7 separate regions of the Homo sapiens genome follow, and all the other regions are linked to region 5. The links come from fine-mapping of genetic effects on plasma protein levels. A gene starts in region 5. Each other region holds a variant in brackets. All regions are shown on one strand. Distances are between the middles of the regions.

Region 1 (4,069 bases), 360 kb after region 5:
AATTAAATCAAAGGAATTGGAGGCAGAGATGCCACAGAATCTGGATTCGGCCACAAACCAGTTCAGTATTTGTGCCTGAAATAAAAGTCTAATCATATACCATCTACAGATGCTAAAGGAACAGCTACATACCTCGGCTGAACTTAGAAAATATGATTTTTTTTATTGTACTTTAAGCTCTGGGATGCATGTGCAGAACGTGCAGGTTTGTTACATAGGTACACATGTGCCATGGTGGTTTGCTGCGCCCATCAACCCATCGTCTAGGTTTTAAGCCCCGCATGCATTAGGTATTTGGCCTAATTTTCACTCTCCTTTTGCCCTCAACCCCCTGACAGGTCCCACTTGTGATGTTCCCCTCCCTGTGTCCATATGTTCTCATTGTTCAACTCCCACTTACGAGTTAAAAAAAAAAAAGAAAGAAAATATGAGTTTGGAGAAACTGGTTATTCTGAAAACAGCCTATTAAAAAGTTATGTGACTGGTTAACAGTGTGTGTGTGTGTGTGTGTGTGTGTGTGTGTGAGTCCATCCATTTCATTAACTGGGGTATTTTCACCAATACAGTCTAAATAACAGGAAATGAATTTAAAGAGAATCAAACAATAACATTCAGAACTCAAAGTTAAGCATAGTGTAAAATATATCTCAGTGGAAAGCATGTAAGTGTCTTAACTCTCCTTCCAAACCCATCTATAAATTGCCACTTTGTATTTTCCATTCATGTATCCTCCTCTCCAAGAAGCTGGACCTTTTTACTGCTGTTCACGCACCTACACATCACGTCCTACTCCATGCCTTTGTCCTGCTGACTCCCCATTTCTTCTCATCTTGGATGTCTTTCCCAAATCCTTCTTGTCATCAAACACTCATCTCCTCCACAGAGCTTTGGATTTTACAATGTGAACTTACATACATTTTCTGAACTTCCCTAATTATCTATATCCAAATTTAGCATTTAATCATAGAACTTTCCTCTCTGATTAAGTATATGTTTGTGTGTACCTTTTTATCCCCCAACCAAATCACATGATTTAAAGGTAACATTGGTCTTTAATGCCTCTCCTTAAAGTTTCCATCAAGATCCTACTCTGCATTTATTCTCTTTCACTAGTTATCCCTTCTCTTTTTTTTGAAAACATGCTTAAACGTGCCCTATCCTAAAGAAATCTCCAATTCTTTCTCAAGCTCTCCCACCATATCTACTTTCTTTCTCTCAAAACTTCTTTAAACAGCATCCCTTCCTCCACTTCTATTCTGTTCTCTCTCAACCCCTCTAATTTGGTTACCCAGGCACACCCTTATCTCTCAGCTGCAAGTCCCTGCAGCACTGAAACCTCACGCACCTGTCTTTCTCCTGGAGACTGAGACAACCTTGACTCCCGGTTCATCTCCTTCCCCCAAGCCCAGCATTCTCAGTGTCCTTTCCTGGTTCCTGCCCTTGAATTCTCAGTCATCACTCCTCATCTTTTCTCAGTCTCCCATGGCAATTGCATTTCTGCTTTTGTCTTTAACTTCAAAATCTCCAAGACTTCCTAATCTCAAATTTTAGTGAACTGTCTGTGGGGTCCCAGACCTTATGCTGCCACCTGCTGGCCAGTTTCACGGGGCTATCTCAGAACAAAATTCAAGTTTATTCCCAAACACCTAACCATTCTATTTATTTTATTTTTCCTCTGTTAACTAATTACATCACCATTTTCCTAGACCTCCCCGATAGAGGTTTAACATCAGCATCCTCCATGATTTAACGATCTTCGCCCCAGCATCAACCACTCAGCTGGTTGTTATATAAATACAACACTATATAGCGTTAGATAAACATAACACTACCTACCAGAGCGTCTGTCCTGTGTGTTACATCCCTAGCTAGCTTTTTTTTTTTTTTTTTTTTTTTGGAGATGGAGTCTCACTCTGTCGCCCAGGCTGGGTGCAGTGGTGCAATCTCGGTTCACTGCAACCTCCACCTCCCGGGTTCAAGCAATTCTCCTGCCTCAGCCTCCCAAGTAGCTGGGACTACAGGCGCCCGCCACCACGCCGGGCTAATTTTTTGTATTTTTAGTAGAGATGGGTTTTCACCATGTTGCCCAGGCTGGATTCAAACTCCTGAGCTCAGGCAATACGCCCACCTCGGCCTCCCAAAGTGCTAGGATTACAGGCGTGCATCACCGTACCACCGTGCCCGGCCCCTAGTTAGCACTTCTTAGACCATGACGGCCTGTCCCCAGGATACTGGATGAGTCCTCATTGACCTGCCTCCATTTTCTCCCCTGAACCCCAATCCTCCTCACACTTCTGCCAGGCAAATCTTCTTGAACCGAGTGTCTGAGCAATTCTCTAGATGAAGAGCCTCAAGACATTGTGTCCTACTGGTAGAATAAAGCCCAAATTCCGCAACTCTGGAACTTCTGGAAAGAACTTCAAGACCGTGCATGATCTGGCTCCAGACTATCATCAAAGCCTCAGCTGTCATCACGCTTCCTCTCGCGATATTCACTCTTGCTCCAACCTCCCTGAACTATTTTTTTTT[TC/C]CTTTACTTTGAACAAAAGAGCCTTACTCTGGCGCTAGAGCTTGTCATGCACTCCCGTCATATCTTTACACAACTGATCACTTCTTGTCACTCAGGTCTTATCTCAAATGTCACCTCCTCTGGCGAGGCATACTTGGACCACACAGTCTAATTACCTTCCTCCTCCTAATACCCAGGTTAGTCTTTCACAGTTAATCTGTTGTATTTCTTCTAAGCACATCTCAGCATCTGAACACATCTGTTCATTTATGTTTATTATGGAGTGTCCATCTCCCCACACTCAAATGTAAGCCCCGTGAGCATGAATATTGCCTTTCTTCACTCAACCCAGCTCCTGGAAAAGTGCCTGGCACATGGAAGCCTGAAATCAGATTCTTCCACAGCGTGGCACCCATTTCCACCTCCTTGTTCTGTCTCTGTTTATACGTCTGTGCTAGCTTTTAGTATATTACATCTTTTATTTGAACAGCTATTTCCAAAGAAAGTGAGGAGGAGGGAAAGGAGGACATATCAAAGTCTGGGGGTGGCGGGGTAGAAGAAGGAATGAATCATTTCTAAAACACACATTCAAGTTGTGTAGTTTTCAGTGTAAAGGATTTGCGCATTTTTGTTAAAATTGACCCTTATATATGTTGTATGTTTTTGATCCTACTATAAGCAGTATTCTTTAAATTTCATTTTCTATGTGTTAGTTTCTAATATGTACATTAAAAGTGAATGTTTATATTGACCTCATATCTGTAACCTTGCTAAATTTACTACTCATTTCTAAGTAACTTTTAAAATTATGTGGTTTTGGGCCAGGCATGGTGGCTCACGCCTGTAATCCCAGCACTTTGGGAGGCCAAGGTGGGTGGATCACGAGGTCGGGAGTTTGAGACCAGCCTGGCCAACACGGTGAAACCCCATCTCTACTAAAAATACAAAAATTAGCCAGGTGTTGTGGCATGCACCTGTAGTCCCAGCTACTCAGGAGGCTGAGGCAGGAGAATCGCTTGAAACCAGAAGGCAGAGTTGCAGTGAGCCAAGATCGCGCCACTGCTCTCCACCCTGGGTGAAAGAGCAAAACTCTGTCTCAAAAAAAAAAATTATGCGAGTTTTTTTTCTATGTGCACAATCATCTGAAAATAAATATAGTTTTAATCATATATTCAAAAATGCATATTCAATATCATTATTATTTTCAAGCACAAGCTATGGAAAGTAAAGCATCAAAAAATCATACATGTTCCAAGATAGCTGCTATGCAGGATTTAAGAAAATAATAGTATTATAGGAGACAGGGATTAAAATAGTTGAAAAATACTGTCTTATAGCAACTTATTATGATACATATTACATTTTGAACCCCTGGAGAGCAATACCATGTCTTATTTGTCTGTATTCCATCAAACCTAATAAAGTACATTTTCCAAAGTAGACAATAAATGTTTCCCAGATACCTCAGTACTGTATGCATGGTATATGTTCAATAAAAACTTGCTGATCAATTGAAAGAACCAATAAACAAATTTAAGTTTTTTGAATGATCAGTGTATG
Region 2 (4,069 bases), 300 kb after region 5:
CCTCCACAGCAGCAATACGAACCTCTAGAAAAAAGAACAAATGAAATTGCACATCAGGCTGGGCACAGTGGCTCATGCCTGTAATCCCAACACTTTGGGAGGCCAAGGTAGGCAGACCACTTGAGCCCGCCTATGCAATGTGGTAAAACTCTGTTTCTACCAAAAATATTAAAAAATTAGCTGGCTGTGGTAGTGTGCGCCTGTTCTCTCAGCTACTTGGGAGGCTGAGATGGGAGGATCACTTGAACCTGGGAGGCAGAAATTACAGTTAGCCAAGGTCGTGCCACTGCACTCCAGCCTGGTGACAGAACGAGACCCTATCTCAAAACAAAACACACAAAAAACAAATTAGCCAAGTGTGGTGGCGCACGCCTATAGTCCCATCTACTTGGGAGGCTGAGGGAGGAAGATCACTTGTGCCCAGGAGTTTGAGGCTGCAGTGAGCCATGATTGTGCCACTACACTCCGTCCTGGTGACAGACTGGGCCCCTGTCTCAAAAAAAAAAAAAACTCCAAAAACAAAAAAACAAAAACTGCACATCAGCCAGGTGCAATGCCATACACCAAAGTCCCAGCTACTCAGGAAGCTGAGGTGGGAGGATCATTTGAGCTCAGGAGTTCAAGGCTGGCCTGAGCAACACACTGAAGCCCCATATTTTATATATATATAAAGTAACTCATATCAAATTAAGAGCCATGGGAAAAGTCCAAGATGGATTCATTCTCCTTCAGGCTGTCTTCTATTCTCTACTCCTCTCATTCTATAAACTCTCCCTGGGAGATCTCTATGCCCACAGTTTCACATACCACCCACCTTAACATCGATCTAAGAACATGGACTTTAGTATCACAAGGACTATGGCTTAAATCTGACTCCACATATATGTGATGAGTCTGTCTACATGTCTGTCTACATTAACTTCTTGAAAATTAAATTGTCTTACTTATCTCAGTATTCCGACCACAGTACTTTTTAAAAAGTCAGTTAGTAAATAATGTTATCATTATTATTAAGATTAAAGTAGACTAAATATCATTGTTCGAATTTTACAGGTAAGATTCAGCAACGTGGATTAACTTGCCTCAAAGTGAATGAGGGCAGGACTAGGACCAATACTCAGGTCTGTTGATTGTAGGCTAAAATCATATAGTGGTTAAGGATACATGCTTGGAATGATAGAGGTCTCAGAGCACACTGTAGTGAATGATCCCTCCACTAAGTTGGAGGGTGATCTTGAATAAGTAACTCAACTTCCTGGCACCTCAAATTTCTCACCTGGTAAATGGACATAATACTCATTTCCTTACAGAGTTGTTAGGACTAAATGAGATAATACAGGTAAAGCACATAGGGACTCTGCCTGGCATATTTTAAGGGCTCAATAAGTATCACCTAGGGTATAGGTTTGGGTTCTGTAAGCACCCTGAAAACAGAGGCATGTTTTCCACCCCTTGGCATGCTCAGAACATGTAAACAATAAAGCCACTGATCCGAGGAAGCCCTTTCTTCATTCACTAATAAATGGGTCCTGAACACGTACTATATGCTAGGTGCAGTACTAAGGGCTAGGATACAAAGATGAGAAATGAGTA[A/G]GACACAGAAAATGCTCACAAGACTTCTATACATGGTTGTTTTTTTCTAGTGATTCCCATATGCTTCTGTAACAAAATGGACTATTCCAAAACAAACAAAACAAAAAGTACCTAAAGTTGTGGTTAAAACTCACAAACACAATTTCCTCTTTGTATAAAGAAAGGTTTTATAGACATGTTAAAAGTAGAGTTACTACATTAAAGACAGATGATTCAGGTTTTTCTTGGTAGTTATGAATTCCTCCTTTTCATCAGAAGAGAACAATTTTCTTCATTTCACAATAATATAATTTAAACATGAAATTGCTAATTATAAGGCAAGCTAGAGATAAACCCAAACATGTTAAGTGCTGGCTCTTCCTCCTAGAATTTTAACCATTACACCACACTGACTCATATGTAACGTTTGCAAGTCCACCAAGGCAATCAGGAAGGAATTTCTGATCAGAAAGAGATAATCAGTGTGACCTCAGCTGATACAGTTCCAAGCAGAAGCAAAGAAATGTGGTATTTTACTTTGCCTGAACGGCCAGACTATAAGCAAGAAAATTGATATTTTCCACTGAACTTTTTGGAACGTTGAAGATACGTCGGCCAGGCATGTCACGCCTATAATCCCAGCACTTTGAGAGGCCAAGGCAGGAGGATCACTTGAGCCCAGGAGTTCAACACCAGCCTGGGCAACATAGTGAGACCCCATCTCTATAAAAAAAGTTAATTAAAAATAAATAAATAATATGTCACAGATTCCCCATGGGTACAGAGCAGAGAAAAGGAATCTACTATACTATATTTTAAAAAAGACTGATCGTCAGCATCTGCACATGTATAATTGGGTCCAGACTTAGCTACCTATTAGGTTTGTACTTAGTACTAAAGACACAAAGATGAACAAAAGCAAGACTATCCCCCAGGCTTACAAATAAGAACAGTTAATTGCATTACAGAGTGATGACTGTTGCCATGGAAAAGCACAGGGAATGTAAGAAAATGCATATGAAGAAATATAGCCCAATCAATGGGATCAGAGGTGGCTTTCTGTAATACGTGATCCCTAAAAACAATAACTAAAAGAGCTGCTAAGCCAAAAGAAAGAAAAAGGCCTTTCTAGAAGAAAAGCTGCATGCACAAAGTCCCAAAAAGGAGAGAGAAGATGGATAAATTAGAAGACTAGAAGTATGTGAGGCACTACACTAGAGTGAACAGCCAGCGAAATAAGGCTCCATTTCATTCCCAGCAATGCACCCCTAAAACCCAAATTTTCCCAGAATTGTATAAATGTGATAAAATTAGAAAGCTGTCATACCTGATACCTGGTTATGGTATACTCACTTTTTAAACTTAAGTTAATTTGATTACATCTTAATAACATTTGCAACACGAAGGATAAATCCTTGAGGAGATGGATACCTATCTATATGATGTGATTATTTCATATTTCATGCCTGTATCAAAACATCTCATGTACCCCTTAAATATATATACTAGTATGGAACCAAAAAAGGGCCCACATAGCCAAGACAATTCTAAGCAAAAAGAACAAAGCTGGAGGCCTCACGCTACCTGACTTCAAACTATACTACAAGGCTACAGTAACCAAAACAGCATAGTACTGGTACCAAAACAGATATATAGACCAATGGAACAGAACAGAGCCCTCAGAAATAACACCACACATCTACAACCATCTGATCTTTGACAAACCTGACAAAAACAACCAACAGGGAAAGGATTCTCTATTTAATAAATGGTGTTAGGAAAACTGGCTAGCCATACGCAGAAAACTGAAACTGGATCCCTTCCTTATACTTTATACAAAAATTAACTCAAGATGGATTAAAGGCTTAAATGTAAGACCTAAAACCATAAAAACCCTAGAAGAAAATCTAGGCAATACCATTCAGGACACGGGCATTGGCAAAGACTTCATGACTAAAACACCAAAAGCAACGGCAACGAAGCCAAAATTGACAACTGGGATCTAATTAAACTAAAGAGCTTCTGCACAGCAAAAGAAACTATCATCAGAGTGAACAGGCAACCTACACAATGGGAGAAAATTTTTGTAACCTATCCATCTGACAAAGAGCTAATATCCAGAATCTACAAGGAACTTAAATTCACACACACAAAAAAGAAAAAAACCATGACCCCATCAAAAAGTGGGCAAATGATACGAACAGACACTTCTCAAAAGAAGACATTTATGCAACCAACAAACATATTAAAAAAAGCTCATCATCACTGGTCATTAGAGAAATGCAAATCAAAACCACAGTGAGATACCATCTCACACCAGTTAGAATGGCGATCATTAAAAAGTCAGGAAACAACAGATGCTGGAGAAGATGTGGAGAAACAGGAACACTTTTACACTGTTGGTGGGAGTGTAAATTAGTTCAGCCATTGTGGAAGACAGTGTAGCGATTCCTCAAGGATCTAGAACCAGAAATACCATTTGACCCAGCAATCCCAT
Region 3 (4,069 bases), 340 kb after region 5:
GCTCATTCTATTCTCTGTCTACCTAAAATGCTGTCCACCAATCATATCTCTTCCTATTGAGGTATGACTCGTTCTTCAAGATTTATTCTTAATATTTACCTGTCTCCAAAGTCTTTACTTATCACTCTAGCTGAAAGTATGGCAGCCCACCTATGAACTCTCAAAGTTGTTTATACTACTACTCTCCCCCATGTTGTTTTGTTCTGTCATTATTGGTGCAAATGCCTGCTTTCCTTGATTAGAGATATAATGTGTGAAGAGTTGATTGATAGTTGCCAACTGTCATTGAGCACTTTGAACATGTGAAGTTAAGTGCTTGATCATAGTTCTCACATCCTCATAACTCCCCTGTGAAATATATGGTGTTTTTTCATATCCGCGTTAAAGAAACTGGGATTTACAATGATGTAACATTGGACAAATTAAGGTCTCAGGACAGGAGGTCACGGAGTGATGAGCCCTGAATTACTCTAGGTGGGTTTAACTCCAAAGCCCATGCCCTTACCCAGGGGAACACACTGCTTCTGAAGATCTCATTCACCATGTTAATGACCACACCCCCGCCAACCCCACCACGTGCCTCCTAACACTAGGCATGCTCCATGTGTGATGAGTGAATAGATGACTAATACTTCGTATGCTTAAGGTCATTTACAATTCACAAAACTTGTTGACAGCTATACTTGATTTCCATATGATTTCCCCAACATCTCTGACGCAGCTCCACAGGAAATGTTATCTCCATTTCACAGAGGCTGAGAGAGTTCAGAGTCCTCCAGAAGCTCACATTGCTATTTAGTAACAGGCATAGACAGGACTTCAGCCCACGTGTTCTGCCTTCAAGTTCTGCCAGCCTTTCTTCAAAACCCTCTGTGAGTTTGAAACTCATCAACAATCAGCAAAGGCTCAAAGTGTTATTGTATCTTAATATGTCTTTTTTGTTGTTTTTTTGAGACAGAGTCTTGCTCTGTCGCACAGGCGGGAGTGCAGTGGCGCCATCTCGGCTCACTGCAACCTCCATTTCCTGGGTTCAAGCGATTCTCCAGCCTCAGCCTCCCGAATAGCTGGGATTATGGGCACCCGCCATCATGCCTGGCTAATTCATTTGTGCTTTTAGCAGAGATGGGATAGGGTTTCACCATGTTGGTCAGGCTGTTCCCGAACTCCTGACCTCAAGTTATCCACCCATTTTGGCCTCCCAAAGTGCTGGGATTACAGGCATGAGCCACCGCACCCAGCCTTAAGATACTGTCTTCTAAAACTTGCCCTTTTTATTGTTTAAAAAACATGATGAGGCCGGGCACGGTGGCTCACGCCTGTAATCCCAGCACTTTGGGAGGTGGAGACAGGTGGATCACCTGAGGTCAGGAGTTCGAGACCAGCCTGGCCAATATGGGGAAACCCTATCTCTACTAAAAATACAAAAATTATTTTTAGTTTTTGTATTTTTTGAGATTGCAGTGGTGGGCCCCTGTAATCTCAGCTACTCGGGAGGCTGAGGCAGGAGAATTGCTTGAACTCAGAAGGCGGAGGTTGCAGTGAGCCAAGATGGCGCCATTGCACTCCAGCCTGGGCCACAGAGTAGTGAGACTCTGTCTTGGGGTGGGGTGGGGGGAGGGGGCGGCGGGGAAGAAAAAACAACATGATGAGGCTTAATTGTTTATGTCTAAGGGAGGGG[G/A]AGAGGCAATTTAGTCAAGTTTTCAGTGCTTTTAAATAGCCACAGATTTCAATCTTTATCATATTGTTTTTGCCCTAACCCTATTAGGATAACTTGCTTACATTAAACAAAATTCTGAGAATGTTAATTAGCAATTCAGTTATGAATATGCATGATTATTTTTAAGTCCACTAATATTATGCATAGGTCTTTTCTGTAATTATATCTAAATGTTCTCTTTTTTTCTCTCCCTCTCTATTTCTCCTTCAGGAAAGCCATTTAAAACACATTTGGGAAATGTCTGAAAAAAGTAATTCTATTACTCTTATTTCCAGAATTTTCTTAAATATTTTATGGCTATAATTTTTTCCTTCTCAAGGCAAAACAGTACATCACCACATACATTATCATATTTGTTGACAAATATGAGAGTCAAGGAATTAATTTTACACCAGTTAAATAACAGAAGAAAAAGTTATTCTGTATTTTCTTCTTTATTATACTAATTTTCTCACATCCGTAAATGGTTTTATATTTTGTGGCTATCTGCAATTATATTTAAGGGCGAGTATTATACCACCATTTGTTTCACATCCAACTTGGAGCATTTTGTATTTGTGTATACATATAAGGTTAGTCAGGAGTGAGAGATAGGATTAAACTCATCTAGTTTGCGTGCCCTTTCTCAGTCACAATGCAGTCTTTACAAACAATTTTTCCTTTAACAGAAAAACTGAAAACATGTCTAAAAAAATAATTTGCCTTAAGACAACCCTTCTAGGAAATGGCGAAGATCTGTTTCAAACCCAGGCCTGCCTCATGCCAAAGCCTGTGACCTTTTCACTATTAATGACCAAATGGTTGAATGACTGTTAAATAAGTCTCTTGGGTAAAACATAAACGTGCCTGATACCCCTTCATTAAAATGTTTATTAGATAAATAAATAAATTGGTGGACGGAGCTCAATATAATCAGCTCATTTGCCTCCACACCAAAAGAGAACATTTTCAAATGAACATGCAGGAGGAATACATGATTACAAAAATGCTTCAGCAATGATTTTGCTTTTATAGGATTACTCGTCCCAAGTTCGATAGTCTTAATGCACATGCAATTTGCTTGAAGTCTATAATGCCCTTGCATTTCAAGCTGAGGAGTCTGATCATCTGGAAACTAAAAATTAAGGATCTGAAATATTGTTAACTAAATAGATTGAACTAAAATTAGCCTCTTAGGACTTAAAGTGCTTCCACATAAAGTCCAAGAGCTAGAAACGAGAATGATGTTCCCTACAACCAAATATTGCCTTAATTCCAAATTTAGCTTCTGCCACTTGATCTAATGTTACATCAAGGCACATGAGCCCTCTGCATGTGAAGAGCTTACACCAATTTGAAGCAAATGCATCACATGAGCAAGAATGCAAATTCCAATAGTAATAATGTTTCTTTCACTATTTATTTCATTCCTTATTTTTCATACTTGTTGCCACTTTGTGAACCTGCCTCCAATCACTTTACACTGGCTTATTTTAAAAGCCTTTTAACTGTTCTCCTTACTGTCACCCTTTTTTCCTAATTCCACTGCTCCTACAAATGGTTGCTAGAAAAATCTTCCCCAAACACAGCTTTTATCACAGGCTCAAAAACCTATCACAATTCTCTAATGCCTGGTCTATAAGACTCTTAAAGTCTTTCCCCCTTCTCACCAGCCTAGTCTCTCCCTGAGGCAGTTTCTCTATTAAGAAGAAACAATATTTTGCTATGCCCTGTATTTTCTTTTCTGTGCCTTTTGGCATGCCAGTGCTAGTGATCCTAACGTAGAGCTTTCAAACATGCTTTGCAAATTATCTTTGATGTATTTTCATATGGGTGTAGTATCAGCCTCTGTATTAGTCAGGGTCCCAGAAAAAAACAGAATTCATCCCAGAGTGTTCAAATAAAGAGATTTTAATAAAGGAGTTATTTGCATTAATTGTAGACAGACTTAAGGAGCAAACAAGGTGGCAGGGCACCCAAAGGATAGCAATGGTGAGAATATAATACTACCCCTAGGGATAAACAGTCAAGGAAAAGGAGCAGTGTTTCCTTAGGAGCCCTGCATCAGAAGAGGTACAGAGGAGAACAGGGCGAAGGGAGTTATATCCTGAAAGGACATGATCACGGCCAGCGCACAGGGCCGAAGTAGGACCTGAAGAAGAAATACCCTGACTTCTTTCTCTTCCTGCCCTCCAATATCCTGCTAAAGCCTTCCATAGGCCCCACCCAAGACAAACACAGAGAGCAGAGAGTCCCAGTCATGCAAATGACAAGGGTCAGCTTCCCAGAGCACACGGAAGACATGGAATAGTGTTGAGTGCATGGGGGCATGGCAAATGGAGAACAATTTGCACAGTCTGAGCTAGACTGTAG
Region 4 (4,069 bases), 930 kb before region 5:
AGGACTTACTCTAGAGATGTCCAGGGACCTGCCTGCTACTATTGCCATATGTACCCCTCTGTTCAACCAATTGCCAGAGGATTCCAGGCAACTGGCTGGCCCACAGATTACAGTTTCAGAATCACAGGCCATAGATCAACATGGAGAGCTGCTACCTGAGTCCAGGAGATTGGCAAACACAAGCTGACCCAGGGGCTATATTCAGCGCAGTAATTGATGAACTGGACACAGATAAAGGACCCATTGGTTGGCTGCAGATTGACACTTGTCAGTGGACTTGCAATGTGGCTTAAGTGGGTTCTTACGTTACTGGAGAATACAATGCATCCCCTTGTGGACTACTGCCCTTGGGAAACCTCCATGGGAATTTAAAAGGCAAGTGAGACCAGGTGCAGTGGCTCATGCCTATAGTCTCAGCACTCTGAGAGACCAAGATGGGAGGACTGCTTGAGGCCAGGAGTTGGAGACAAGCCTGGGCAACATAGCAGGACTCCATCTCTACAAAATAAAAAAAAAAAAATTAGCCAGGTATAGTCGCACACGCCTGTGGTCCCAGGTACTTGGGGAGCTGAGGGAGGAGAATCGCTTGAGTCCAGGAGGTTGAGGCTGCAGTGAGCTATGATCGTACCACTGCACTCCAGCCTGGGGAACAGAACAAAACCCCGTCTCTGAAAATATATATAAAATAAATAAAATAAAAGGCAAATCAAAGCAGGGCATGTCAATGCTCACCAAAAGAAGCCTTATGCCAGGGTCTGAAGGTGGCCAGAATCAACAAGTGAATACCTAGTTTATTTTTTTATGAGATGGAGTCTCACTCTGTCACTTAGGCTGGAGTGCAGTGGAGCGATCTTGGCTCACTGCAACCTCCGCCTCCTGGGTTCAAGTGATTCTCCTGGCTCAGCCTCCTGAATAGTTGGGATTGCAGGCATGCACCACCACATCCTGCTAACTTTTGTATTTTAGTGGAGACAAGGTTTCATCATGTTGGCCAGGCTGGTCTCAAACTCCTTACCTCAAACGATCTACCTGCCTCGGCCTCCCAAAGTACTGGGATTACAGGCATGAGCCACTGCACCTGGCCCCTTAGTTCATTTTATTTATTTATTTTTGAGGCAGGGTCTTGCTCTGTTGCCCAGGCTGGAGTGCAGTAGCACCATCACAGCTCACTGCAGCTTCAACCTTCCAAATTCAAGTAGATCCTCCCATCTCAGGCTCCCAAGTAGCTGGGACCACAGGCATGTGCCACCACACCCAGCTAATTTTTTTTTTTTTAGTAGAGATGGGGTCTCCCTATGTTGCCCAGGCTGGTCTCAAACTCCTGACCTCAAGCAATTCTACTGCTTCAGCTTCCCAAAGTACTGGGATTACAGGCTTGAGCAACTGCACCTGCCCTACTTCAATCTCATAAAGTAGCAATGTGGGTCCATAAAATGAGTGGGCCCGGGGCACTCGTGCCATGAAGTGAGGGGCTGAGCACCATGTAGTACTTTCCCTGCAGAAGTTCAAATGTTTACTAAACATTGCTCTGTTTACCAACAGAAAAGGTTATGTTTGCAGTTAGGTCTGGGAGTATTTCCTGGGGAGGAAGTCCAGCCCACAGCTGGCAAGTAGATGATACTGGCCCTTTACCCATTTTTCCAAGAGAAATTAAATGGACACCGACAGGTCTGCATGCATACTCTGAGTTTGGCTTTGTTTTTATTTTTTAATTATTTTTAGTTTTTACAGGCAGGGTATCACCTGTTGCCCAGGCAGGAGTACAGAGGTGCAATCACAGCTTACTGCAGCCTCAACTTCAGAGGCTCAGGCGATCCTCCCACTTCAGCCTCTTGAGTAGCTGGCACTACCAGTGCATGCCACCAAGCCTAGCTAATTTTTTAATTTTTTTGTAGAAATAGGGTCTCACTATGTTGCCCAGGCTGGTCTCAAATTCCTGGGCTCAAGTGATCCTCCTGCCTCAGCTTTCCAAAGTGCTGGGATTACAGGCATGAGTGATCACACCTGGTCTGTTTGGCTTTGATAGCCATATTGGTTTGGCACTCTCAGTTACGTTTTCCCAGATCAAGACACTCAATCCACAGCCCATGCCGAGCAACAATGAGCAAAGAACCAGCATATTCGATGGACTTATCACATTCTTTATCACTCTCAAACTCTCAGGTTAATTGAAAATTAAAATGGGCAATTAAAACACTGTCATGTCTGTAATCCCAGCACTTTGGGAGGCCGAGGTCAGGAGATCGAGACCATCCTGGCTAACATGGTGAAACCCCATCTCTACTAAAAATACAAAAGTTAGCTGGGCATGGTTGTGCGCACTTGTAATCCCAGCTACTTGGGAGGCAGAGGCAGAATCGCTTGAACCAGGTTGTGG[T/C]GGGCAGATCGCTTGAGGCCAGGAGTTCCACATCAGCCTGAGCAATCTAGTGAGACCCCGTATCTATAAAAAATTTAAAAATGAGCCAGAAGTGGTTCATAGTGGTTAAGTAGCTGTAGTCCCAGCTACTCAGGAGGCGGAAGGGGGAGGATCATTTGGAACCCAGGATTGAAGGCTAGAGTGAGCTAGGATTGTGTCACTGCACTCCAGCCTGGGCAAGAGGGAAACCCTGTCTCAAAAATAAAAAAAAAAACTGAGGAGACGTGATAAAGGAGTGACACTCAGCCTACAACCACCCGGCATTTTGTTCAGAGAAGGACTAAGTGTAGGACTCTTTGGACAAATTATTATGCTTTTGTGGTGGGAATTGGGGAAAGGAGGAGGGGTGTGATGGTTAATATTGAGTGTCAACTTGATTGGATTGAAGGATGCAAAGTATTGTTCTTGGGTGTGTCTGTGAGGGTGTTGCCAAAGGAGATTAACATTTGAGTCAGTGGACTGGGAGACGCAGACCTACCCTCAATCCAGGTGGGCACCATCTAATCAGCTGCCAGCGAGGCCACAATAAAAAGTAGGCAGAAGAACGTGAAGAGATTAGACTGGCTTAGCCTCTGAGCCTACATCTTTCTCCTGTGCTGGATGGTTCCTGCCTTCAAACATCGGACTCCAAGTTCTTCAGCTTTGGAACTCAAACTGGCTTCCTTGCTCCTCAGCTTGCAGATGGCCTGTGATGGGACCTTGTGATTGAGTTAATACCCCTTAATAAATTCATATATATATATATATATTCTATTAGTTCTGTCCCTTTAGTGGACCCTGGACCCTAATACACATTTTGGTACCAGAAGTGGGGTCCAGAACAGGAGAAGGCTCTGCAACAGGTCCAGTCCACTGTGCAAGCTGCTCTGCCACTTGGGCCATATGACCCAGCGGACCCAGTGGTGCTTGAGGTGTCAGTGGCAGATAGGGATGGTGTTTGGAGCCTCTGGCAGACCCCCATAGGCCTCTAGGATTTTGGAGCAAGGCCCTGCCATCTTCTGCATATAACTACTCTCCTTTTGAGAGACAGCTCTTCACTTATTACTGGGCTTTGGTGGAAACTGAACATTTGACTATGGGTCATCAAGTCACCATGAGACCTGAACTACCTGTCATGAACTGGTGTTTTCTGACCCACCTAGCCATAAAGTGGGTCGTGCACAGCAGCATTCCATCATCAGATGGAGGTGGTATATATGTGATCGGGCTCCAGCTGGTCCTGAAGGCACAAGTAAGTTACATGAGGAAGTGGCTCAAATGCTCGTGGTCTCCACTCCTGCCACCCTATCTTCTCTTCCCCAGCCTGAAATGATGGCCTCATGGGGAGTTCCCTATGATCAGTTGACAGAGGAAGAGAAGACTAGGGGCTGGTTCACAGGTGGTTCTGCACGATATGCAGGCACCACCCAAAAATGGACAGCTGCAGCACTACAGCCCCTTTCTGGGACATCCCTTATGGACAGCAGTGAAGAAAAATCTTTCCAGTGGACAGAACTTCAAGCAGTGCACCTGGTTGTGCACTTTGCATGGAAGGAAATGGCCAGGTGTGCGATTATATACTGACTCATGGGCTGTAGCCAATGGTTTGGCTCTATGGCCAGGGACTTGGAAGAAGCATGATTGGAAAACTGGTGACAAAGAAATTTGGGGAAG
Region 5 (4,068 bases):
AGGACATGAGGGCTCCCTCTGTATGGCAGAGGCACCTGACATCCGTAACTGTTGTGCACCCTGCGAATGACTTTATGGTCTAAGAATGTATGTTCAGAGCCCCAGCTAAGGAATCAGGAGTGGCAAGATCCTGGAAGGATGCCAATCTATGAAACCCTGAGTCAAGAGGTCAAGCTGGGCACTTGTTTTCCTTTTTCTTTTTTTTTGTAGGAGTTTCACTCTTGTTGCCCAGGCTGGAGTACAATGGCGTGATCTCGGCTCACTGCAATCTCTGGTTCAGGCGATTCTCTCACCTCAGCCTTCCCGAGTAGCTGGGATTACAGACATGTGCCACCATGCCCAGCTAAATATGGAGATGCGGTTTCTCCATATTGGTCAGGCTGGTCTCGAACTCCCAACCTCAGGTGATCTGCCTGCTTCAGCCTCCCAAAGTGCTGGGATGACAGGCGTGAGCCACCGCACCTGGCCAAGGCACTTGGTTTCTTAGATCACCCACTTGGCCCTCTTCCAAGTTGTACTTTCCTTCTTTCCTTCCTGTTCTAAAGTTTTTTAATATTTTTTTTTTTCCTGAAATGGCATCTCACTCTGTAGCCCAGGCTGGAGTGCGGTGGCGTGATCTCAGCTCACTGCAACCTCTGCCTCCTGGGTTAAAGCATTTCTCCTGCCTCAGCCTCCCAAATAGTAGGGATTACAGGTGCCTGCCACCACGCCTGGCTAATTTTTGTATTTTTAGTAGAGATGGGGTTTCTCCACGTTGGCCAGGTTGGTCTCAAACTCCTGATATCAAGTGATCCTCCCGCCTTGGCCTCCCAAAGTGCTGGAGTTTGGAGTTACAGGCCTGAACCTCTGTGCCTGGCCTGCTTTTTTTTTTAGACTGAGTCTTGCTCTCTCGCCAGGCTGTAGTGCTGTGGTGCGATCTCGGCTGACTGCAACCTCTGCCTCCCGCGTTCAATCGATTCTCCTGCCTCAGCCTCCCGAGTAGCTGGGACTACGGGCGCATGCCACCATGCCCAGCTAATTTTTTAGTAGAGATGGGGTTTCATCATATTGGCCAGGCTGGTCTCAAACCCCTGACCTCGTGATCCCCCCACCTCCGCCTCCCAAAGTGCTGGGATTACAGGTGTGAGCCACTACGCTCAGCACTGGCCTGCTTTTTAACAAGCTTTTACTACTGCTCTGCAGCTTACCTCCCTCTGGCTTTCTGCCTTATGCCCCTCAGTGCAATTCTTTCTTCTGAGGAGGCAAGAATTGAGGTTGTTGCTGATGTGTAGGGATTCACCACCCGGAACTCCACCAGTAACAGGTCGAGGATGCTAGTTGAAAATGTTATGTAAGCTGCATGCTTTTTACAAATGGTAGTGGTTCTCATGTCCAGCAATGGCCACTGCACCGTCCCTGTATGAAAGTCCCCTCCATAAATCTATGTCTCCTTTGCTGTCTCCAGATCTCCTCCTCTACCTCTCCCACACGGTGCCTTCCCTACTGGAGTAAACTGGGGTCCCGCAGGGCACCCTTTCCCTGCAATTTTTTTTTTTTTTTTGAGACAGAGTCTCGCTCTGTTGCCCAGGCTGGAGTGCAGTGGTGCGATCTCGGCTTACTGCAGCCTTTGCCTCCCGGGTTCAAGCGATTCTCCTACCTCAGCTTCCTGAGTAGCTGGGATTACAGGCACGCACCATCACGCCCCGCTAATTCTTTTTTTTTTTTTTGTATGTTTACAAAATAGGGACGGGGTTTCACTATCGTTGGCCAGGCTGGTCTCGAACTCCTGGCCTCAAGTGATCTGCCCCCCTCGGGTTCCCAAAGTGCACCTGGCCTCTCTCCCTGCATCTTTATGTGCCTGCAACACCAAGAGGGAGCTCTTGGCCCCTGGGTTAAGGTCAGGGCTCCAGAAGCCCAGGGTCAAGGCTATGGCCGCATCCCAAGGACGTGCATCCCTGCAAGAGGCTGCATCAGACAGGCATGGAAGAGGCGCCGCTGGGGCCTCCTTGAATTCCTGCTGGGAAAAGCAAGTGGAGGTGCTCCTTGAAGAAACAGGGGGATCCCACCGATCTCAGGGGTTCTGTTCTGGCCTGCGGCCCTGGATCGTCCAGCCTGGGTCGGGGTGGGGAGCAGACCTCGCCCTTATCGGCTGGGGCTGAGGGTGAGGGTCCCGTTTCCCCAAAGGCCTAGCCTGGGGTTCCAGCCACAAGCCCTACCGGGCAGCGCCCGGCCCCGCCCCTCCAGGCCTGGCACTCGTCCTCAACCAAGATGGCGCGGATGGCTTCAGGCGCATCACGACACCGGCGCGTCACGCGACCCGCCCTACGGGCACCTCCCGCGCTTTTCTTAGCGCCGCAGACGGTGGCCGAGCGGGGGACCGGGAAGCATGGCCCGGGGGTCGGCGGTTGCCTGGGCGGCGCTCGGGCCGTTGTTGTGGGGCTGCGCGCTGGGGCTGCAGGGCGGGATGCTGTACCCCCAGGAGAGCCCGTCGCGGGAGTGCAAGGAGCTGGACGGCCTCTGGAGCTTCCGCGCCGACTTCTCTGACAACCGACGCCGGGGCTTCGAGGAGCAGTGGTACCGGCGGCCGCTGTGGGAGGTGCGATCTCGGGGCAGGGCCGGGAGGCGCCCGAAAGCCCGGCGGTGGGAGTAGGGGAGCCCGGGCCCCCCGCAGACTTCTTCCCCTGGGCGTCTCCGAGCTGGGGCCCGCAGGAGGTTAAAGGTCAACGGGCTTGGGGGCGCCGGCTTGGGGGACGGGGGAACAGGAGCACCCTGGAGGGCCGGGGCGGATTAGGCAGGAGGAGAAAAGGCTCTTGCCGAGCCCTTTCCCGAGGTAAAGGCTGAGTCTGTGCAGTATCCTTCCTTTCAATATTTATTTTTAATTTTTAAAAATTTTTTTGAGACTGGGTTTGCACCTGTTTCCCAGGCTGGGGCGGAGTGGCGCCAGCCTAACTTCTGAGCTCAAGCGATTCTCCCGCCCCAGCCTTGCAATTTAGGGGGTGCCAACACGCCTGGCTAATTGAAAAAAAAAAAATTATCTGGGCTCGGTGGCTCACACCTGTAATCCCAGCACTTTGGGAGGTGGAGGCGGGCGAATCGCCTGAGGCCAGGAGTTTGAGACCAGGCTGGCCAACATAACAGGGTGAAACCTCATCTCTACTAAAAATATAAAAATTAGCCAAGTGTGGTGGTTCATGCCTGTAATCCCAGCTACTTGGGAGGCTGAGTCAGGAGAATTGCTTGAACCCGGGAGTAGAGGTTGCAGTGAGCTGAGATCAGGATGCCACTGCACTCCAACTTGGGCGACATAGTGAGACTACGTCTCCAAAAAAAAAAAAAAGGCAAAAAAACTTAAAAAAAAAAAAAAGATACAGGGTGTCACTATTTACCCAGGGTGGTCTCGAACTCCTGGCCTCAAGCCATCCTCCCACGTTGACCTCCCAAAGCGCTGATTACTGGCATGAGCCACCCACACACTCTGGCCACAGCGGCATGCACTGCACAGAGCTGGGCCCGGGGATCGGGAGAAGGTGACAGTTTAGATGTCCTGAGGTCAGCTCTGCCGAGGCAGGAAGTCCCTTGGTTTTCAAGGTTCACATAGAGGACAGGACATGACATCAGGCCCAGGACGCCACCCCTGTTCCCCTCCTGACTTGGATGTGATCTGCAGAGAAGTGGAACTGGGTGAGGTCTGGGCGGCTTTTGCCTGGTCTACATCCTCTTATTCTGACTTTGCAGCATTCAGTACAGGAGGGAAAGAGGAGGGGGCTGGGTGCCAGTGTGCACCCCACTCACAGTGTCCTAAGCAAAGCTCCCCCCATTCCTCCAACCAGCCTTCCTCCCTGTGACAGGCAGTGGCCATCTGCCTCTTAGTCACAGGTCTGAACCTTCTTGCCTCTGGCTGGGATGTGGCCCTGGGCTTGCTCCTGTCTCAGGAGATATTGTGCCCCATCCACTCTGAGGAGGAACTCCTGGCCCCACTGGCCCAGGTGCACAGATCGCCCTGGCAGTTGACCTGTCATCAGCAAGTTATCTGTCCTTTCTGCCAAGAATCCCCGCTATGTGTCAGGGCTTGTGCTAGGCCTGGGGGCA
Region 6 (4,069 bases), 350 kb after region 5:
AAGAGATAAGTACCCATTTCTAAACATAATGCAAGTTTGACATTTAAGCTCAATAGTTTAGCTATAGAGCATTTTGGTAACATAAAAAGAAACCAGAGCAATTTGAGTGACCTTTGTGAAAGACAGGCATAGAGGTAGCAACCACCAGTCTCACCACCAAAATCTAAAAACACGGAAAATTAGCATTTATCAAAATTTCTCAGAGACTATGTTACCTACCCAAGATTCCACAGCTAGGATGCAGTGTTTGAGTGTCTACTAACAAGGCTGGGAATTATTAAACACAGAAAGCGTAACAGAAACACTTAGTTCCTCTTGGGTCTTATGGTCCAGTTGATAAAACTTCCAGCACTTTGAACAGATTTTCACTTACTGCAAAGAAAAATGCTTAGCTGAATTATTGTCTGTCTGGGTTGCAAGTAGCACACCCCCACCATCTGTAAAATAATATTTTGGTAGACTAGAGGGCATGTTGTTAAAGGAACCCAAAGGAGAATTATTTTGATAAAGTTAGGGACAATCTCTAGTATGTGTGTTTTATAATTCTGCAACTTATGTAGAAATATATCTGAATGAAATGTTGTTGAAAAGCTGTATATCATTTTAATTTTAATAAATCGAGTCACATTTTATATTCACTGACTGAGAAGTTGGTATTTAGGAAACCTGTGAGAAATTACTTTAATAATTTGTGTGTATGGCAAACATTCACCTTCTGACTTAATTCAGAATTTCTATATAAAAACAAAAATTTAATTCTTTAATATCATCTTAAAATGAGGGATGTTCATGCCATGTTAAATAAATCATTTCCACTTATTTTTAATACATAGTATTAGTTAGGATGCTTGCAGCTGCAAATGATAGAAAATCCAATCCAAAATGGCTTTAAAAATTGTTGTTCTTTAGGTCTATCACCCTAGACTTCTGCTGTCCAATATGATAGTCATTAGCCACATTTAAATGTAAAGAAATCAAAGTTACATTTACATTTAAGTGTAAAGTAATTAAAGTTAAATACAATTTGAAATTCAATTTTTTCAGTTTGCACTAGCCATATTCCATCAAGTGACCAATAGCCACATGTCACTAATGGCTGCTCTATTAAACAATGCAGATATGGAAAAATCTTCTTCACCTCAGAAAGTTCTATTAGACAGTGCTGGCTTCAAAGAAAAGGAAGTTGTTAAATCAGTAGGCAACAGTATCTGTTATATTCCCTATGTAGCAGGCAATAATCTTTATGCATATTATTTCCTTTAACTTCCCAACCGCTCTATGAGGCAACTATTATTATAATGTACTAGTCTGGACTCTAGGTTGCTAGCTAAAAATGGGAAAACATAATTAGGAGAACCTTGAACTATCTCACATATCTACAAGAAAAGCCTGGTTAAGGTCCTCATCACCATCAGAACTCTTTCCATCTGCCACCTTTATTCTGTTGCACAAGTCAGTATTATTCTTCCAGGTCAGCTTCCCCCTTGTGGTGGAAACTTCCCAGCCTCATATCTCACAGCCTCAAACTACTGCCTCCCACCCCCTGAGAGAGAATGATCCTCCTCCTTTCACTCCCATTTTAGATATTACTCGGAAGGACTCTGATAATTTAGCTTTAGTGAAGAGCTCAGTGTTAAATCAATCAGTTGTGGCTGAAGAGACACCAGGGAGAGGATCAGGGTTGTAGAATAGAGACATGGCCGGAGGGGCTCCACTTATGGACAGGGAAAACGATTTCTAGAGAAACTGGAATGCCAGGGTCCTCTCCTTCAACACATTTCTGAGTCCTCAAGGCTCTATCTCAGGCCCTCTGCAATTTCCACCCCACATACTTTCTGAATCTGTCTCACCAAGTCCCATTAATATACTAGTGAGGCCCCAATTCTCTGTCTCAGCAAGACCTTGTATTCTTAGCTTCAGACTCACATAACCAACTAACCTTTCCCAGACATCTGCAGCTGTATATCTCATAGGCTCCTTAAACTCAGTATATCCCACAAAATTCATCATCCTCCTTCCCCCTCTTCCCCAATCATTCATTATATCAGGAATGCTCTTTCAATCAATGACCGAATTTCCCATGCCAAGAATCAAGGCATCATCCTTGATTTGTCCTCTCCTTAAACATCCAATTAATTGCCAAGCCCTACATATATCCCTAAAATGTCTTTTTATTAATATGTCCATCTACTTCTGTCCATTCCTAGTACAGTGCAACCATCATAGGCTGGGCCACTATCATTTCTGGAAAATTACTGTAGTATCTCATGGGTCTCCCTTCCTCCAGTGTTATGCCTCACCAATACATTATCCATACTACAGCCAGAATAATCTTTCTAAGATGGTGATTCTATTATTCTGCTTAAAACCTTCTGGTGCCCATTCATTGACTTTCAAAACATTTTTCAACTGCCTCTTGAGGCATATAAAGTCTTATATGATCTGTCCCTTGCCTAGGTCTCTATCCTTACTCTC[C/T]TACTATCCCCCTCTCCTAGTCTCTACAACTGCCATCCTTTCTCTTGCCCACTGCTCTTTGTGCCACCCTCTGGTTAAAACAATACTACTACTGATAACCTCTTTTTCTTAATTCTGCTCATATTTTAGTCTCAACTTCAATGACACCCATCTTCTCCCTTAGGCTACATCAGTTCTCCCTGCTATATGCTGACTATTCAGTTAACATAACACATTGCATTGCAGGAACTGTGCTAAATTATTCACCTTCCCAATTAGACTATAAGCCCCATGAGGACAATAACCATTTTCGTTTTGCTCACGAACATGTCCTTGACATCTAATAGCTAGTGCTTGACAAAGAGCAGAAAATAAGCTGAATTTAATTCTTTCATTTATTCCACAAATATTTTAAGGAAGCCTGTTTGTGCCAGATGCCACCCAAGGCACTGAGATGCAGCTGTGAATGAAACAAAATCTCTTCCTACATGAAGCTCATGTTCTTGCAAGGTAAAAAAAAAACAAAACAAACAAACAAACAAAAAAAAACCAAACAAAAAACCCTAATAAACTAATAATTTTTTAGAAAATGCTTAAATTGTATAAATAAATATAGTTTTAATATTTGTATAACTTTTTACATTTTTATTTTTACTTTTTATTTATTTATTTTTATTATTATTATACTTTAAGTTTTAGGGTACATGTGCACAATGTGCAGTTTAGTTACATATGTATACATGTGCCATGCTGGTGTGCTGCACCCATTAACTCGTCATTTACATTAGGTATATCTCCTAATGCTATCCCTCCCCGCTTCCCCCACCCCACAACAGTCCCCAGAGTGTGATGTTCCTCTTCCTGTGTCCATGTGTTCTCATTGTTCAATTCCCACCTATGAGTGAGAACATGCGGTGTTTGGTTTTTTGTTCTTGCGATAGTTTACTGAGAATGATGATTTCCAATTTCATCCATGTCCCTACAAAGGACATGAACTCATCATTTTTTATGGCTGCATAGTATTCCATGGTGTATATGTGCCACATTTTCTTAATCCAGTCTATCATTGTTGGACATTTGGTTTGGTTCCAAGTCTTTGCTATTGTGAATAGTGCCGCAATAAACATACGTGTTCATGTGTCTTTATAGCAGCATGATTTATAGTCCTTTGGGTATATACCCAGTAATGGGATGGCTGGGTCAAATGGTATTTCTAGTTCTAGATCCCTGAGGAATCGCCACACTGACTTCCACAATGGTTGAACTAGTTTACAGTTCCACCAACAGTGTAAAAGTGTTCCTATTTCTCCACATCCTCTCCAGCACCTGTTGTTTCCTGACTTTTTAATGATCGCCATTCTAACTGGTGTGAGATGGTATCTCACTGTGGTTTTGATTTGCATTTCTCTGATGGCCAGTGATGGTGAGCATTTTTTCATGTGTTTTTTGGCTGCATAAATGTCTTCTTTTGAGAAGTGTCTGTTCAAACAAATTTACAAGGAAAAAACAAACAACCCCATCAAAAAGTGGGCAAAGGACATGAATTTTTTACATTTTTAAAATTGTATAAATGAAACCTTTTTAAATGACATTTTCATTATGTACTCCAAGTTGT
Region 7 (4,069 bases), 480 kb after region 5:
CCAAAATTGGCTTAAAGCCCACCCGTTACCCAAGCTACACTTCAAGCATCAAGGTTCAAAAATGTAATTTTAAATATGCAAGAGTTTGAGGAATTCACTACTCACACTTTCTTGAACAGTCTATCCAAGTGCATCAAGCAAAATGTGAGTAAAGAAATTTTGGCCAAAGGATTGATAGTAATGTTGAATACTTTTAATAGTAGATCTAAGATTAAAAGGTGAGAGTGAGGGTGAGAAGAGTGTATGAATGCTTTGTGTTCTGACAAAGAGAATGTAGCACCCATGTCCTACCTGCTTGGTTGCATTGCCATTGCCCACGGTAGGCTATTTTATCCGGGTTTTTAGGTTTTGTTTTGTTTTTTTCTTTTCAGGAGAGTTAGTCCAAGACAAATAACTCCATAACTGGTATAATTGGAAGACTTTAATAGTGCTTAACATTTTATACATAGCTTTATAACAGTTTTTTTTCTTTTTTTCTGAGAGATTCTTTTCAATATACCCCATCATGGTTGAACTCAAAGTCATTGCTTATTTAAAATCTACAACTGCTGACGTTTTGTAACCTTTGCATTCCAGGTAATTGGTTTTTTGTGCATTTTCTGTATTTTTCTCCATCAGTCTACCTAGATATTTGTTAGATTTAATATTTTAATATTTTTCTGAAAAAGTGAGCTTTTGCATTTTTAAATATATACTCTGTGGCTTTAATTCTGCTTTTTCATGTACCGGTTCCTCCTCTTTTTTTTTTTTTTTTTTTTTTTTTTTTTTTTTTGAGACAGAGTCTTGCTCTGTCGCCCAAGCTGGAGTGCAGTGGCATGATCTCTACTCACTACAACCTCCACCCGCCACATTCAAGCAATTCTCCCACCTCAGCCTCCCGAGTAGCTGGGATTACAGCTGCATGCCACCATGCCAGGCTAATTTTTGTGTATTTAGTAGAGAATGGGTTTCACCATGTTGGACCAGGCTGGTCTCGAACTCCTGACCTCAGGTGATCCACCTGCCTCGGCCTCTCAAAGTGCTGGGATTACAGGCGTGACCCATGGCGCCTGGATATTTCCTTCGTTCTTTATGTTTATTTTACTGGTTTTATCTCTCTCTCTCTCTCTCACTGTTTCTCTCCTTCTCACATTCACTTTGCAGTTGTCAAATAGCCCAGGTGATGTTACAGATTTACTCCTTATAAAAGGAGGCATTACACATTATACTTGCATCTTAGTGGCCTTAAAAAAGTGTTTGGTTCATTGTATTGACTATTGACCTTTATAATATTTCAATATTCATTAAAATAGCTTCCAACCAATATTATTAGACTTATGTTTCTAGCTTTCTTTTTTGTATTGATATCTACCTTCATTGCTGTTTGTTTAGGAAATATATTCTGTGTCACGTTATTTCCGTGAAAATTGTTTGAATTTGTGTTATGGTCTAGAAAATGTTAATTTTTGTAAGTATTCTGTATGAACATGAAAATAACATGAATTATAATATTCATGTTCCTTATAAAACATTTGCCCTTTTTAAAATCCACTAGCTTCTTTTAAAACTTACTCTTTTAATTTTTTCTTTTATCTATTACTGAAAGATGTGTGTTTGAAATGTCTATAATGATTTGGGGGCTTATCCATTTCTACTTACTTTCTGATATTTTTGCTTTATATAATTTGACTCTCTAAATACGTGTGTGTGTGTGTGTGTGTGTGTGAGAGTGTGTTGTGTGTGTATTTATGTATATATGTATCAGGCTAATGCACATTTAAGTCATCACATCTTAATAACTTAAAATTTTTATCACACTGGTTAGACTAACTTATTTTAATAAATGTTTCTAACTTACATTCTATTTTGTCTGCATAGCAACTTTTTAAAAAATTATATTCATGTAGTATGTATGTATATCATATATACACAGTATCTGTATTGTTTGAATTTCAAAGTTTCTGTAAATTTATATATTAGTTGCCTCTCTTGTAACTATGATAGAGACGGATTTTTTTAATTTTGCCAATCTTTGTATTTTAATAGAAACATCGTGTACTTAGGTTTAAGTTAATCTTTGATCATTTATACTTA[A/CTTAA]TTTGTTTTATTAATTTGTTGTGTATATATATATATAAAATGTCTCATTTTCTCCTATTAGTTTCTGTCTTCTTGTTTTTAAATTATGACTTATTTTTATTGTTTTCATAGATACAACAGAGAAATGCATAATGTCCAGCGAATTTATTAAAGTTCCAAAGTCGGTCGCGCGCCGTGGCTCACGCCTGTAATCTCAACACTTCGGGAGGCCGAGGCATGTGGATCATGAGGTCAGGAGTTGGAGACTAGCCTGACCAACATGGTGAAACCCCGTCACTACTAAAAATACAGAAATCAGCCAGGCATGGTGGCACGCGGCTGTAATCCCCGCTACTCAGGAGGCTGAGGCAGGAGAATTGCTTGAACCTGGGAGGCAGAGGTTGCAGTGAGCCGAGATGGCGCCACTGCACTCCAGCCTGGACGAAAGAGTGAGTGAGACTCCTTCTCAAAAAAACAAAAAAAAAGAGTTGCAAAGTCATACTCACCTTTCTGCTCTTGTCGGACAATTAAGGGGTCTTTGAATACTTCAGCCCTAATAATTTGCTTCCTAACATACATATTGCAGTGCTTATCTAATTTTGAATATCTTTTTGTTTCAACACCTAATTTTTTATTTAGATCTATCTGTATGTTTACAGTATATTTTGCTCTGTGTTCATTCTCTGATTTCAGAACTTCAGCCTTTCTGAAGCATGTTTTCAGAGTTTCTCTTTAGTTTCTTTAGTGGAATTCTGCTGGTGGCGTTTTGTTTTTTGTCTCTAAATATGTTATTTAGCCATAGGTTGATGAATATTTTTCTTGCTTGAGAATTTCAGAATGGCATTATTATTTTTAACAAATACTATTATTTTACCTTTCATTCTTTCAGATTTCAATATGATTAAAGGTAATTTGATTTTTCTAGTGCTAAGTGAAATATTTTTCCCTTCCTGATTGTTTACTATTACTCTAGGAGATACGTAGGTGTAGGTTTATCTCCATTGTAGCTTGCTTAGCATGCATGGAATTTTTGAACATGCGGATTAGTGTCTTACAAAAGTCTAGAGAACTTTCAGCCAAAATACCATCACATATTCTCCCTTCCCAGTTCTATTCTTGTATGAGAACACTCACTACACACATGCTACACTTTCTCACTGTATCATCCATGTCTCTTAATGATTCTGTCCACATTTTGCATTTTTTAAAATTTTCTGTAATGCATTCTGAAATATTTATGAACTCTCACCATGGCCATGTCTAATCTGATGAGTTCATTTTTGAGTTTTTAATTTAAAATACTATATTTTTATACAAACTACTTTTCGAATTTGCTACATCAATTTTTTAGTCTCCTAAAAATATATTCATTTTATTTTAAATTTTTTTAAAGCAAATTTGCTTTATAATCTAACAGTGATATTTCTACTAATGAAACTTTGTGGATCTGTTTGTACTCTTGTTCTGCTTTCCTTTCAGATGGTGGAATATCATTTCCTTGCGTACTTAGATGCCTTTGAATGACAAATATTTATTTTTCTCTGAAAATTATTTTTGTGCACTTTTGAGGATTAGTAAGAAGAAAATTTGCCAAAGAGAATTTGAATTTTTTTGTGAGTCTACTAAAGACACCACCATTCTGGGACCACATTATGTTAATTCTTGGCCTAAAGGTGTTTGGATGTATGTTTGGACTGCACATTTAAACAATTTTTAAATTAATTGCTGTAAATCATTAATGATTGAGTTTCTTTAAATCTGTCCAATCTCAAGTCATTTTTATTTGCCATTTCCAGGGAATGTGAAATGGGACTAATTTACCTCTGATTCTTGTTTATACTGAGGACAGAAATTTTGGTCCTAGCTTTAGGGAGGAGCTCCTGTGTGATGCCCTATCTTGGGAAAAGCTGTGTATTTCTTTACTGTCCTATGTGATGAATGACAGTAGGAATCTGCACTCATTCATTTTGGTACATTTCCGTAGGGCAAAATCAGTTTCGGTGTTTAGGTATATTTT

Alleles and levels. Positions count from the first base shown, and alleles are read on the strand shown. Strength reflects both the effect of a copy and how common the allele is.
For the plasma level of the protein whose gene starts at base 2,336 in region 5, TC is the high allele of the variant in region 1 and C is the other (strong association).
For the plasma level of the protein whose gene starts at base 2,336 in region 5, allele G in region 2 goes with a lower level than allele A (strong association).
For the plasma level of the protein whose gene starts at base 2,336 in region 5, allele A in region 3 goes with a lower level than allele G (strong association).
For the plasma level of the protein whose gene starts at base 2,336 in region 5, allele T in region 4 goes with a higher level than allele C (moderate association).
For the plasma level of the protein whose gene starts at base 2,336 in region 5, C is the low allele of the variant in region 6 and T is the other (strong association).
With allele CTTAA in place of A in region 7, the plasma level of the protein whose gene starts at base 2,336 in region 5 is lower (strong association).

The links. PIP is the posterior inclusion probability: the model's chance that the variant is causal. Protein levels are from antibody-based Olink assays in UK Biobank. Linkage for the fine-mapping came from a reference panel and not from the study's own genotypes, which makes the PIPs less certain.
Region 1: its variant is fine-mapped to the plasma level of the GUSB protein (UK Biobank, PIP above 0.99).
Region 2: its variant is fine-mapped to the plasma level of the GUSB protein (UK Biobank, PIP above 0.99).
Region 3: its variant is fine-mapped to the plasma level of the GUSB protein (UK Biobank, PIP above 0.99).
Region 4: its variant is fine-mapped to the plasma level of the GUSB protein (UK Biobank, PIP above 0.99).
Region 6: its variant is fine-mapped to the plasma level of the GUSB protein (UK Biobank, PIP above 0.99).
Region 7: its variant is fine-mapped to the plasma level of the GUSB protein (UK Biobank, PIP above 0.99).

The regions. Positions count from the first base shown.
Region 1 is chr7:65,619,298-65,623,366 of GRCh38, reverse strand. No RefSeq gene overlaps it. Among named protein-coding and RNA genes, the nearest start is that of SNORA22, 130 kb to the left of the region's middle. The variant TC/C (reference allele first, on the strand shown) is at 2,530.
Region 2 is chr7:65,681,557-65,685,625 of GRCh38, reverse strand. All of the region lies in intron 3 of LINC03006 (long intergenic non-protein coding RNA 3006), which reads left to right. It also overlaps the pseudogene INTS4P2. Among named protein-coding and RNA genes, the nearest start is that of SNORA22, 72 kb to the left of the region's middle. The variant A/G (reference allele first, on the strand shown) is at 1,594.
Region 3 is chr7:65,640,375-65,644,443 of GRCh38, reverse strand. No RefSeq gene overlaps it. Among named protein-coding and RNA genes, the nearest start is that of SNORA22, 110 kb to the left of the region's middle. The variant G/A (reference allele first, on the strand shown) is at 1,679.
Region 4 is chr7:66,908,484-66,912,552 of GRCh38, reverse strand. No RefSeq gene overlaps it. Among named protein-coding and RNA genes, the nearest start is that of LINC02604, 6.4 kb to the right of the region's middle. The variant T/C (reference allele first, on the strand shown) is at 2,378.
Region 5 is chr7:65,980,481-65,984,548 of GRCh38, reverse strand. It overlaps GUSB (glucuronidase beta), which reads left to right and starts at 2,336. Exons shown (of 12, transcript NM_000181.4): 1 at 2,336-2,575. The coding sequence starts at 2,366. RefSeq lists enhancers at 2,161-2,290, 3,747-4,068.
Region 6 is chr7:65,628,867-65,632,935 of GRCh38, reverse strand. No RefSeq gene overlaps it. Among named protein-coding and RNA genes, the nearest start is that of SNORA22, 120 kb to the left of the region's middle. The variant C/T (reference allele first, on the strand shown) is at 2,476.
Region 7 is chr7:65,497,551-65,501,619 of GRCh38, reverse strand. It overlaps the pseudogene LOC101929322. Among named protein-coding and RNA genes, the nearest start is that of ZNF92, 130 kb to the right of the region's middle. The variant A/CTTAA (reference allele first, on the strand shown) is at 2,074.